Linked DNA regions of Homo sapiens: region 1 is linked to region 2. Evidence: fine-mapped expression QTL. Tissue or cell type: stomach. Region 2 holds a variant in brackets; the other region holds the start of a gene. All regions are shown on one strand. Distances are from middle to middle.

Region 1 (6,068 bases), 530 kb after region 2:
TACCCACCACACCAAGAGAGATTGGTGGGGGGTTGGGGGTAGAAGACTAAATTAGATTTCCTTCACACCAGGCTTTACCAAAGCAGCCATGATTTAAGAACACTAACACCATAAGAAAAATCTCTCCTCACCTGCTTGCTGAAGCTGAAAATCCTGCAGTAAGTGAAAAAGTTCTTCATTCTGTAATTACAGATAAAAAGCTTAAAATCAGAAGCTTGGTTGACATCACACTTGAGCATTTTAGGTTAGATTTAAAATAAAATTCACCAGTGAATGGTAAAATATCAATTTTACCCAACCTGCCCTTTTGTAGAAGGGGCAACACATCGGTTAAGAGAGTCTCTGAAATGGGGAAGAAGGTTAATCTACCCTGAGAGAAATAGCACAGAGGAAAAAGCAGCTTGAAAGGCAGAAGGCAAACTTCAAAAATGTCACAATTTTGCCTAGGTTAGGTCTAAAGAGCAAAACAAACACATAAAGTACCATCATACTAAGGTATTTTTGTTCAGGGACCTATCAATGAGCACAGTGATGATTCACATGTCTATGAAAATGTGCTTTTTAAACTAGTCTGACTTGACTTATCAAGAATTCTTAACAAATCACTTTCAACAATAAAAACTGTTTTACAATTTCACCTGTATTTTTACCTTTAATAAGAGTTATTTAAGCACTGATTATTCTACTAGATGCTAAATTGCCTATTATATTTAATGCATGTGAAAAGTTGAATCTGAGCCCTAATGTTTTACTAAAACAACATAAAAGGTTACATTCCTTAATATAAAAGTAAAACTGAATTTAGGGAACAAACTCTTGGCAATAAAAACAGCCTTTCCTCTGCCTTCCCTCTTTTGCCTGGTAGTATTGATACTGCCACTGTGTCACCTCCTATGCTAAAAAAGTTTTCACTGAGTCACATTCAATTACAATTCCAGAAAAACAGCTCCATGTTGAGACATTACTCAACTTCTCAAGCAGTTTCTTTACTAAACCACTATATAATAAGACTAGCAGGAGGACAAACAATAAACTGCTCCTTTATTGACCTTCTCACTCCTCTCCTCTCAACCCAAAGAGGTTTTCGGGAAAATGGCTTATGGATGGCAGCAGTTTGCACTTGTTACTATTCACTATAACAGGTCCCTGGATTGTAACTGCAGAGACCATTTGAGTTACGGTCTTTTTCAAGCTATATGTGGGTCACATTTTATAAAACCATTATTTTATTCATGCATTTTTCCACAGGTTCTGAATCGGTCATTACGAATTAAAGAAATGAGGCAGTAGGCAAATAAGAAGTACATGTTATGATTCATTGATTCTTGTCTCAGAACTTCCTGTTAAGCTGATTATATGTCTGCATTTTTAAATGCTTAGATTTCTCTTATTAAACAAAGTACCTCGTAGGCAAAAGTGACACGGTCCTCATCATTTTCTTTAAATGACGCTCTATTTCATTTATTCCAACTACAGCTTCTCAAGTATGTTAACAGAAATCTCAGTAGTGTCAAAGGATCTAATAGAATTGTTTCCATCGAAAATGATGAATTCTGGAAGAGTACTACACCAAAACAATTATGGAATTATACATTTTAACTTATATTTTCATATTTTACTAATACTTCGTATATGTTTTTAATGTACCTTCAAACCACGTTAAAGGGTCTTATTTAAAAACATTTTCCAAGTAAGCATGGAAAAGCTAAAATAAGCCTTAAATAATTTAGTCTGGCTCTCTGATGGTATAGAGAAAATAACATGGGTCATTGCCCTACCTGTAAACCCACAGCTGGATAGTGACAGAAATGGGACTAGAATCTAGTTTTTCTTTCCACGACACCAAATCTCATTTGGCTCTTTCTTTCCAGTGGATTTCTCACCTCAATTCTTCAAATATCTTTTTGCTTTTAAGAGATGGCACAAACTAAGGAAAAACAGAGCATCTCTCCGAATTTTACCTTTAAAATAAGTAAAATCTAAAGAGTTGGAAGAATTTAATATTACACCAAAAGCCTTTTAATCCAGGAATGGCGCATACTAAGCAGTCATCAAATGGTGACTGTTATTAATATTATTCTTACCACAAGGAAAGCAGTGAATTTTTAAAAGTGCATATATTAGCATAGTAGGCTGAGGACCTATTTAACACATCTTTTTAAATTGCACTTAATTATCCTTAGTCGCCTTTGGACTGTAACTTTACAATATAATTTATGACCCGCCCACAATGACCTTGATTTTTTTTTCTCTTCTACTTTTAGAGACTGCTATATTGCAATATTTTAAAGTAATAATTGGTCATGTCCTCTCAGCCCTGGTGATACAGACATCCACCCTGACTCTCAAGGGATCTTAAAATGTGACCCACATATAGCTTGAAAAAGACCGTAACTTAAATGGACTCTGCAGTTACAATCCAGCGACCTGTTACAGTGAACAGTAACAAGTGCAAACTGCTGCCATCCATAAGCCATTTTCCGAAAACCTCTTTGGATCAAGAGGAGAGGAGTGAGAAGGTCAATAAAGGAGCAAACTGTTTGTCCTCTCTGCAGCTTCACACCAGAAGTCTGGAATGAATGAAAAGCTCTGGAATAGCACAGAGAAACCCGGGATCCCAGTGCAGGTCTCCAGACGGGGGTGCGGGGAGAGAAACTGTAGTTTACAAGCGAGAAACTCAGGATACAGATTTAAAATAAATAAATAAATAACTAGCCAACATCGTCTCGACTAGAGCAGGAACCCCCCACCCCCAGTTGAGGGAGGAGCACTTAGCAAGGGGCTGTAGCTCTAGCAGAAGACGCTCTGAAAAAGGCCAGGCCTGGGGCGGGGAGGCACCGAGAAACCCCCGGGTTCCAAACAGAGCAGGTGCAGGGGGCGTGCAGGAACAGGTGAGGGCGTCCCGGCGCGGAGGAGCGGCGGGCGGGCCCGGCAGAGCGGAGCGGGGGCCGGGGATGGGGGTGGGGGTGCGGATGGGGATGGGGGTGGGGGCGGCCGCTTCGCCCCCGCGCCTGCACACTCACCGTCGCCGCTGGCTCGCCTCTCGCTGCCGCCGCTCTCCCGACCGCCAGCAGCTCTTTCCCCTCCTCCTGCCGCGCCACCTCCGCCTCCTCCGGCGCCGCCGCCCAGGCCGGGCCGCTCTCCCCTTCCGCTTCCGGGAGCCTGAGGGCCTGGACCGGCCGAGTGGGTGTCCGCATGCCCGCGCGCCCGCGTGGGGAGGGACGACTGCCGCCGTCGCCGTCTCGCTTAGCTCCCGGGAGCCGCGATGGGAGCCGCTGAGGGCCGAAACTCCTGCAATCGCGCCGCAGCCCCAGAGCCGCGGACCCAGGCAGACCGCACTCTCCAGAGCGCTTGCACCTGGCGCGCCTGGGCGCCTCTGCCCCTCCCCAGCCCTACTTGAGCCGTCCTTCTCATTGTCCCCATATCCTCACTGCTCACCTCTCCCGAGAGACAGGATGGGGGCCTTAGCTTAAAAGATTGCATGTATCCTTTCTTCGGGGGATGTGGCCAGCAGGCCTCTCTCCCCGCAGGTGTTCTGGGATGTCCCATGGTACCTTGCTTCAAAGCGCGGTCTGCAGCATCAGCATCCTCTGGGAACTCACAATCTTTGAAATGCACAATTTCAGGCCTGCTGAATCAGTACATGCACTTCAGCAAGATCACCAGGTGACTCCTGGGGTGCACCGTAAAGATGGAAAAGCATTGCACTGTAGTGCATGGTCTCGTCCACTTCAGACCCTCTATTGGGTTGCCTCAGACATCCCAGGATATTTCCTGTTCCTGTCCTCAACCTAAATCCACACCCAAACAATCTTTTCTTATATTTTGGGAGACCTCCAAAAGTTTCCTGCTTTCCCATCCCTGCAAAAGCCGACAACTTTTGGACTCAGCGATGCAAGTAATCCACCTCTCAGTCTAACTTGGTATCTTCACCAAACACCAGAGATCTACTAACTTTCCCACCTCACTCCGGCTGAACAGTATTTGGGGAAGGTTAAACCGTTTGCAGTAATGTGGAGCTAGATCTTTCTGCCCACGTGCCACAGGAGGAGACAGTGTGTTGGTGGAAGAAATATTACCTGTTGTATAAAATCTGTATTCCTTATAAGATGTGCTTAAAAGCCCTCCACAGACACATCCCTACCTACCTCTCCAGTCTTAGCTCCAACTAATTTGGTTCATTTCCCCATTCTAGAATGCCCTGCTCTCTGATGATCTTAACCCTATCCAGATTTGAGAGTGGAAATCTTGCCAAACCAGAGTTCTCTCACCACTGCCCTTATATAGTGCACATTGTTGCCTGTTTGGGGCCTCATATTACCTTGTATTGCTAAGGATTTTTAAACATGTTGTGTCCTGGTTTCTGAACTAATTATAAACACCTTGTGACCTTAAAAACTTTGGTCAGTGGTTATCAAAGTGGGATCCCTAGACCAGCAGCATCGGTATCACCTGTCAACTTGTGAGAAATCCATATTCTTTTGCCCCATCCCAGATCTACTGTAGTAGAAACTGTTTAGGTGTAGCCCAGCAATCCGTGATGTAACAAGCCTTTTAGGTGATCCTAATACACACTCAAGTTTTAGAATTACTGACCTAGATTACTAGATATTCCCAAAAGAACCCAGTGGTAGGAATTGATTTACCCATAAGCAGATTTTATTGCCTTTCAGGTTAACAAATACACTCCCCGATATATGCATAGCGAGGTTGAAAGACTAGTCACGATTGCTTTTGATAGAATTACCTTTATTTTTCATAAATCATTTGATGTAGTAGGATTTTTGTAACTTTCTCTGTTTGAAAAGAAGGAGATATTTCATATAAACAATCACTTTGAAGGAAGAGGAAATGTGGAATCCTCCCACCGGAATCCAGCTACCTGATTGCGTATTCAATGTGAATCCCTTCTACCCAAATCCAGCTACCTGATTGCATATTAAATGTGGACTCCTCCCTACCCGAATCCAGCTACCAGAATTGCATATTAAATGTAAAATCCCCCCCCCACCCAAATCCAGCTACCCAATTGCATATTAAAAGTAGAATCCCCTCCACCTGAATCCAGCTACATGAATTGCATATTATTTTGCTTTCTCTTCAGATACCCCTGTGAGAGGGAATAATTTGTGACAAGTGATCTCAAAACTGCCAAAATAAGAATTAGTTGACAGGTCCATGATTGCACATGACAATTGGAAGTGCATGGATTTTTCAGTCCCTTTTTAAAATAAGTTAGCCTGTCTTTTATCAGCCAAATCAATTCCACAGAGAATTTTTAAGCAAGGGAATAGGAGAGAAGAGGCAGGAGAAACATCCTTAAAAACATGAACCTTTTTAGCATGGGCATTTCATGAGTATAATCAAAGGCCTGCCTATCCCTTACACTGAAGGTCAAGTCATCTGGTTCTATCATTCATGCTAATCATTGGTTATATTGTATTGCAACCCATACATTCAGGCACCTGGGTAACAATAAGGGGGTGAGGGAGATGTGGCATCAGGTAATCTTTTGAAAAGATTTTCTATTTACTGGGTATATTATGGAAAGACGATATAGATCGTACCATATTTTTTCCCTCCAGAATTCTAATCTACTTCATGGGGCCTGGGACAAACTGAAATGTGATTATTAATCAAACTAATATTTATCTGGAAGTAGAAAAAGTAGACAAGGACAAGTAGCATTGCTGCCACTGCCAACCAAGCTTCTAACAAAGGCACACTCAGGGCATTTATGAGGGTAAACACAGCCAACTCCTGTGCTTCTGTGCCGTGACTAGGGAGGATCTGGATTTTAGTGCAATTTCCAAAAATCAGTGCAGTCCAGAGTTTAATCAGTACTGGCTAATAGCCCTTGGCAGCTTTGGATGGATGGCATTCTCCACCTGCCCAGCTGGGTACCATGCCTTAAGCACCCATATTTGATGCACATTCATGATTTCTTGGTTGCCTATAGTTGTCTCTCCCATCTGTTTGAGTGGCAGAGTGCCTGTGCCATAACAATCTAATATTCTAAAAGTTGTTCTTAACCTCTTCTCTTTTGGGTTACACATCTCTTTGAGTAT
Region 2 (6,068 bases):
TAAAAAATGACTCTTAGGAATGCAAATTAGGTTTGTTTAAACAAAAATAAAAAGTTTAGATACCAAATAATCTCTTAGGAAAATTTTTTCTTCCCTTTCTAAAAGTACAGGTTTATTGATGCGGTTTGATTTGCCATGGCCCATGCATACAGAATGGTCTGTGGGCTCTCAGTGAATGCTTTTGACTCGGTAGCACCTGGTAGACTAAAGCGAAAAATGAAAGAAAGAAAAAGGAAACCACAACCACAATTAGCACCTTGCTGGAATAATGTCAAAGATCTCTTAAAGCCACCGTTCTTTTGTAAACCCTTCTCTGATGAAAGAAAAGTGAACTGCTGTTACCAGCACCCCGACCCTTGTTCCAGGGTCACTAATAACATAAAAAGCAGAACTTGTATATACAGCAAATACAGAACTTTGCGTTGACCTATTTCTGGGCATCTTTAATATACGTTGCACGATTTCACTGCTTTCCTCACCCTTGCTACTATTCCACTGGACTCCTTTTATTTCAAGAATTAGACAACTTTTCTGGCAAATGGTGGTGAATCCAGGCCTCTGGGAATGCCACATGACCCTTAAGTCACACCGGGGCAGGGTCCACAGTGGCCATGGAGCCTGCTTGCTAGCTGGTCTATGTCCAAAACTAGAGATGAGAACTCCCACAAACAACAGTAACCCTGCACCCAGCCCACCCCATTCTCATCTATGTTAAGGGGGTGTAATGAGTGTGAGGAATACCTTAGCAGGGGAGGTTATGGCCTACTTGCTTCTGTCCTAGGGTGAGAATAAGTTTGAAAATCCTCAGAATTGAAATACATCTGAGAAACAAACAAACAAAACTAGATTCTAAGAACTGGCAATTTGACTGGATTTTACATAAAGCTTCAGGGCTGACCAAGGAATTAGATGCAGTTCAGAGATGTGAAGCATGGGTAGTGCAGCAACATGGAGCACTGAAATCAAAGAGCTGGGATTTGAATCCTAGCCACAGATGACCAGTTATGAAATCTTGGCTAGGTTATTAGTCCTCTTTTTGCCTCAGATTCCTCACTTAACAAATTGGAGACAATAAAAATCACCTATCTTATAGAGTTGTTACTACTGGAGATAAAAATATAAACCCCATGATAAGCATGTTACCAACAAATTAAGATCTTAGGGCCAGTGGAACCTGCGATCAGCTATATACCGAATTACGCACACTGGCCTCCAGACAGTCCAAAATGATCCGCAAATCTTTATTCAGAAAATTTACCAGAACAAAAGGCACCACACTGCTTTTCAACCATACATAGCATGAAAAGACAGAAAATCATTCAATTAGCATATGTGTTTCACTGCTGTGAACTGAGGAGCCACTGATGTTTGACATCCACCCACCCACCTTCTTTAGAAACAGAATGAAAGAAGGAGTGAGAGGAAGTTGTAAGATCTCAGTAGGGAATAAAACAGGTGCCACATTAAGTCATTATTCTGAAAAATATATATACATTTTTAAGAGTATTATAACAAAATGTCCCAATTTAATGCACTTCTATTTTAAGAAACTCTTATTTCTTGAGCAATTAATTTTTACCAGGTTAAATTCATTTCAGTAATTATTGAGAAACTTCTAAGTAACAATCACTGTACAAGGTGCTAAAAGTCATGAATACAAAAAAGGACACTGACTGTCTTGCCTGGTCGGGGAAAGAGATGTTTTGACTCTTCTGGACCACTGTAACTTACTATCATATAGAAAGATTTTTGTTGCTTTTGTTATTGTTTATAGTTCATTATACTTTATTTTATATAGGGTAAACTTAATAAAGTAAATATATTAAGTACAAAACCTTCTTTATCTTGGGAGGCCGAGGTGGGTGGATCACAAGATCAGGAGTTTGAGACCAGCCTGGCCAATATGGTGAAACCCCATCTCCACTAAAAATACAAAAATTAGCCGGGCATGGTGGCGGGCACCTGTAGTCTCAGCTACTCGGGAGGCCGAGGCAGGAGAATCACTTGAACCCGGAAGGCAGAGGTTGTAGTGAGCCGAGATGGAGCCATTGCATTCCAGTCTGGGCGACAGAACAAGACTCCATCTCAAAAAAAAAAAAAAAACAAAACAAAACAAAAAAACAAAACAACCTCCTTTATCATGACTACAGCTCATATACTTAACCAGTCACACAAGATTATTTTTCATCACCCAATTGTACTTTGTAAATGCCTACCCTTCATATCTTCCTCCTGCAGCTCCCTGAGATGAGATGGCCCTCTTTCTACACACTCTAGTCTCATCCTTCAAAATCCAGCCCAACCACCACCCACTCTGTAAACTGCTCCTCCAACTCCTTCTACCACCCACTGGCCCAGCCAGAAATCTCCTTCCTCTGTACTTGTATAGCACCTAGTTTGTACTAATTTTATACTTTGTACTTTCAGATTTTCTGAGAGATCTGTTTTCAAGTCTTGCAGTCATTGCTGGATTATCAGATCCTTTATTTACAGAAGTGACTGGGTTTTGTTCATCTCTATATCTTCCTTAATGACTAACTCGTTGCCTATATATAGAGTAAGTACTAAATAAACACAGAACAAAATTTTAAAATTCAACTTTACAAACAGGGTCACACATTAACATCTTAGTCATTTTATTACAATGTAGATACAGATGGTTTAAGATTTATGGATAATTATACTAACCTCTGTTATTCCCTAGAACTTGTTTGCTGAAGAGTGTATTTAGGCTTTTGGGTCACATGAGAAAGAGTAATGATTAGGGTCGGATTGTATCTCTTACTTTGTTGTGTACTAATGTGTAATGTCAAGCATTTAATACAAAGTAACAACCAAAGAACTGGAAGTGTTTAAATAGTAAGAGCCCAAAAATATTTGTGAAACACATCGATGAATAAGTGATGAACATTTCAATGTATTTACATAAACTATATCAGAGGTAATACAAAATAACATTACAATATCTATGTGTAATCTGAAGTTCATTTCCTTATTACTCCAATGAGAAGTCAGAGATCCATCTGCTCCTAAGTCATGACCATTAAGATGGAGTGGGGTGTGAGCCTGTTGGAAGCCAAATCATGAAGAAGGGATGAGTCAGCTCAAGGCCAATTCTACCAGTGGGAAGACAGTCAGGCAGTCAAACACAGACAATACAATGACTATTGCAGCTATTCACAGAAAAAAAGAAGACAATTCAGAATGTAGCAGGGTGTTTCTCCACTCCCCACCCCCAACTTCCCAGGTTCTAAGAAATTGGAATCTACGGAAACAATGGAAAGAGGTAGTTTACCGAAACCATGAAAAGCATTGGAAATATATCAGAACTTCTTTGGAACCTACTGGATAAAATGCAAAAAACCACAGAGGTCCCACTGGGCTCTACTCCTGCATGGAGCCCAGTGAGACTTTAGTGGAGGAAGGTTTCCTGAGGA[T/C]GAGTGATGATGCCTATTAACCATGTACCTATGGGAACAGGGACAGGTGAGAATCAGCCAAGTGGGGTAGCCTGGGAGAAGCACCGGAAGCAGATGGCTGCCACCTTCATGCATCTCTGCAGGCAGCATAGCCTTTGTAACGGACAGGCATTAACCAAGACGTGGCAGAGTGAAAAAGAAATCATGGATGAAATAGTACTCAGATACTTAAAATAGTACTTGGATACCTACTAGTGCTTACTCATTAGCATACAGAAGACAATACTTGAGGGCTGTAGCAAAATAACTGAGAGGATTTTGAAATGGGCAGGGGTCCTGCAGTAGGATAGGGGGTGAAACTCAGCAAAATGTCAGGTTATCTGCTGCTAACATAACCCCATCTGTAACCTCCAAGGTCCTTGGGCCTTTCAGGAACATGTTTTTCACATTTCATAGACCACTGTAAATCTAAATAGCTAATACAACAGCTAAAGATCTTAAAGCAATTTGGAGACATTCATATAGTAAATTCCCTTCGTCTACCAAAGGAAATATGAGCATCTCTGAGGCAGAGCAGCTGCTTAATGGTTACAGAGCAATATTACACAACAGCTTAATCCAGGAAGAAAAGAACAACTCTGCATTTGTGTGATGCTGTATTTACACTACATGTGTGCTTTTTAAAAAAAATAAAATTGAGTAGGAAATAAAGACTTCTACAAACTGAAAAGTCTCAAAGGCAATATCAAATTATATTATTTTACTTCTTTTTTATTTTTCTCTGACAAAAGCAACAGTAAATCACTACTCAGAAGTTAATATACTGTTTAACCTCCTTTACAAACAATAACAGAGGGACACAATGGCATATCTAACTGTTAATATCTCAAATTATAATCAGTACCATTTGAATGTTAAACAACATTTACATAGAAAATCCAAAGGAAGACTGATAATGCTCATTTTTACAGTCTACTGTGTTCTATTCTTGAAATTAAAAAAAAAGAAGCCACAGAAAGCAGTTATTAAATTCATGAAAGCCGTCTTCAAGTATTCGAAGGACTATTAATGTAGATGGTGGATTTGACTTATTCTGCATAGTTCCAGGAGCTGTTTTTTGGCTCAATAAACAGATTTGTCATCCAATGGGAACAGGCCTAAAAAGGCATGTGAAATTTTGCAAAGGTAGCATAACCAATATATTCCCAACAACTGTGATGACCTTCACAAGCAGGCATTAACTTCACGTTCACCATTATCTTATAAAATATGTCATATTATTGGTGTTGCCATTTTACAGATGAGGAAACTTTCATCTTACAGAGATAGTTTCTCAGTGGCTATAAAGACTCCCACTGGATATAAAAATTCTTGCTTTGTGAAGGAAATCTCAAAAAAAAAAAAAAAAAAAACAGAAAAAAAGAAGAAAGCATCTCAAAAGCCACTGCAACCCACAGATTCTCCCTTCTTACACAGATGTTTTCCTATGTTAGTTTTCTGGCATTGTTCATTTGGAGAACAAACAGGTGGACATAAGACATCTATAGGCATTTTCCAGCCCTATGATTGCAATTGTTCACTTTCTTCAACAGAGTTTAAAAGAAGGCTTAATTCTTTTTGTAAAGGGACAAGAAGAGATTACTTTATACTAGCTCTTTGCCAATCTTCATATAACTTCAGATACCACAACTAACCCATTGGTAATTTTCTGGTAGTGATGTTACAGGACATAGTTCTATCTTCAGTTTCTCAACTGACTTGAACTATCCATGGTTAAAGCTAAACTTGTGTTGAAGTTAAAGCTGAAACTGTGATTATAAAATAGAAATATTAATCATTGCAAAGACGGTGATTTTCTTCACAGAGATTAAATCTCAGCCTATAGCCCAGGTTAACATTCAAATATTAATTTAGAATTAAGTGTATCTCTCAATATGAAACGTAAACCCACGAGGATGATTTAGGTGATCTTGGAGGGAGTCAGAAATTTCCCAACTTTAACACGCCCTGATAGCATTATATTTTTTTCAATATTTCCTTCCAGTCCTTTAAACTTTTTCCGCATATATATATATATTTATTTATAAAATCAATATCAAATTTAAATATAGTTGTATCCAGCTTTTTTCCTATTAACATTGTATCTGTCCTTTTAGATAAAGTTTTTCAAAAGCATGATCTTTATGACTATATATTGCATGGCTGTATCATACTTTATATTAACCATTCCATTGTTTGGCATTTTAGGTTATTTCCCAATTTTTAAAATATAATAAACAAATAGCACTGTAATTAACATCCTCATACACAAATCTTTGTCAGCCATTCTCATGATTTCCTTAGGCTGGAGTTCCCAGAATTAGAATTACAGGGTCAAAGGACATAAACTCTTTTAAAACTCTTGGTAAAAACTGTCAAGCAGCTTTCCACAAAGTTGTTTTGCCAACTTACACTCCTTAGGGCAAGCTGTGAGCATGTCCATCTCACAATCCTGCTGCCAGACTTACATATTAGTAGGGATTTGTTTTTAATTGTGGCAAGTTGATAGAGAAAAAAGGTCATTACATTAATGTTACAACTTTCATTTATTTCATTTTAATAAAATGGACTCATTTCAGATATATGAGCATATTTCTTTCACCAGAACATTAA

Evidence for each region. PIP is the estimated chance that this variant, and not a neighbour inherited with it, causes the effect.
Region 1: it holds the start of ZDHHC21, and the variant in region 2 is fine-mapped to the expression of ZDHHC21 in stomach (GTEx, PIP 0.97).

What each region holds. Positions count from the first base shown.
Region 1 is chr9:14,690,206-14,696,273 of GRCh38, forward strand. ZDHHC21 (zDHHC palmitoyltransferase 21) reads right to left here and starts at 3,227. Exons shown (of 10, transcript NM_178566.6): 1 at 3,024-3,227; 2 at 132-180. RefSeq lists silencers at 2,869-3,008, 3,089-3,158 and an enhancer at 3,232-3,732.
Region 2 is chr9:14,156,024-14,162,091 of GRCh38, forward strand. All of the region lies in intron 3 of NFIB (nuclear factor I B), which reads right to left. Among named protein-coding and RNA genes, the nearest start is that of NFIB, 160 kb to the right of the region's middle. The variant T/C (reference allele first, on the strand shown) is at 3,438.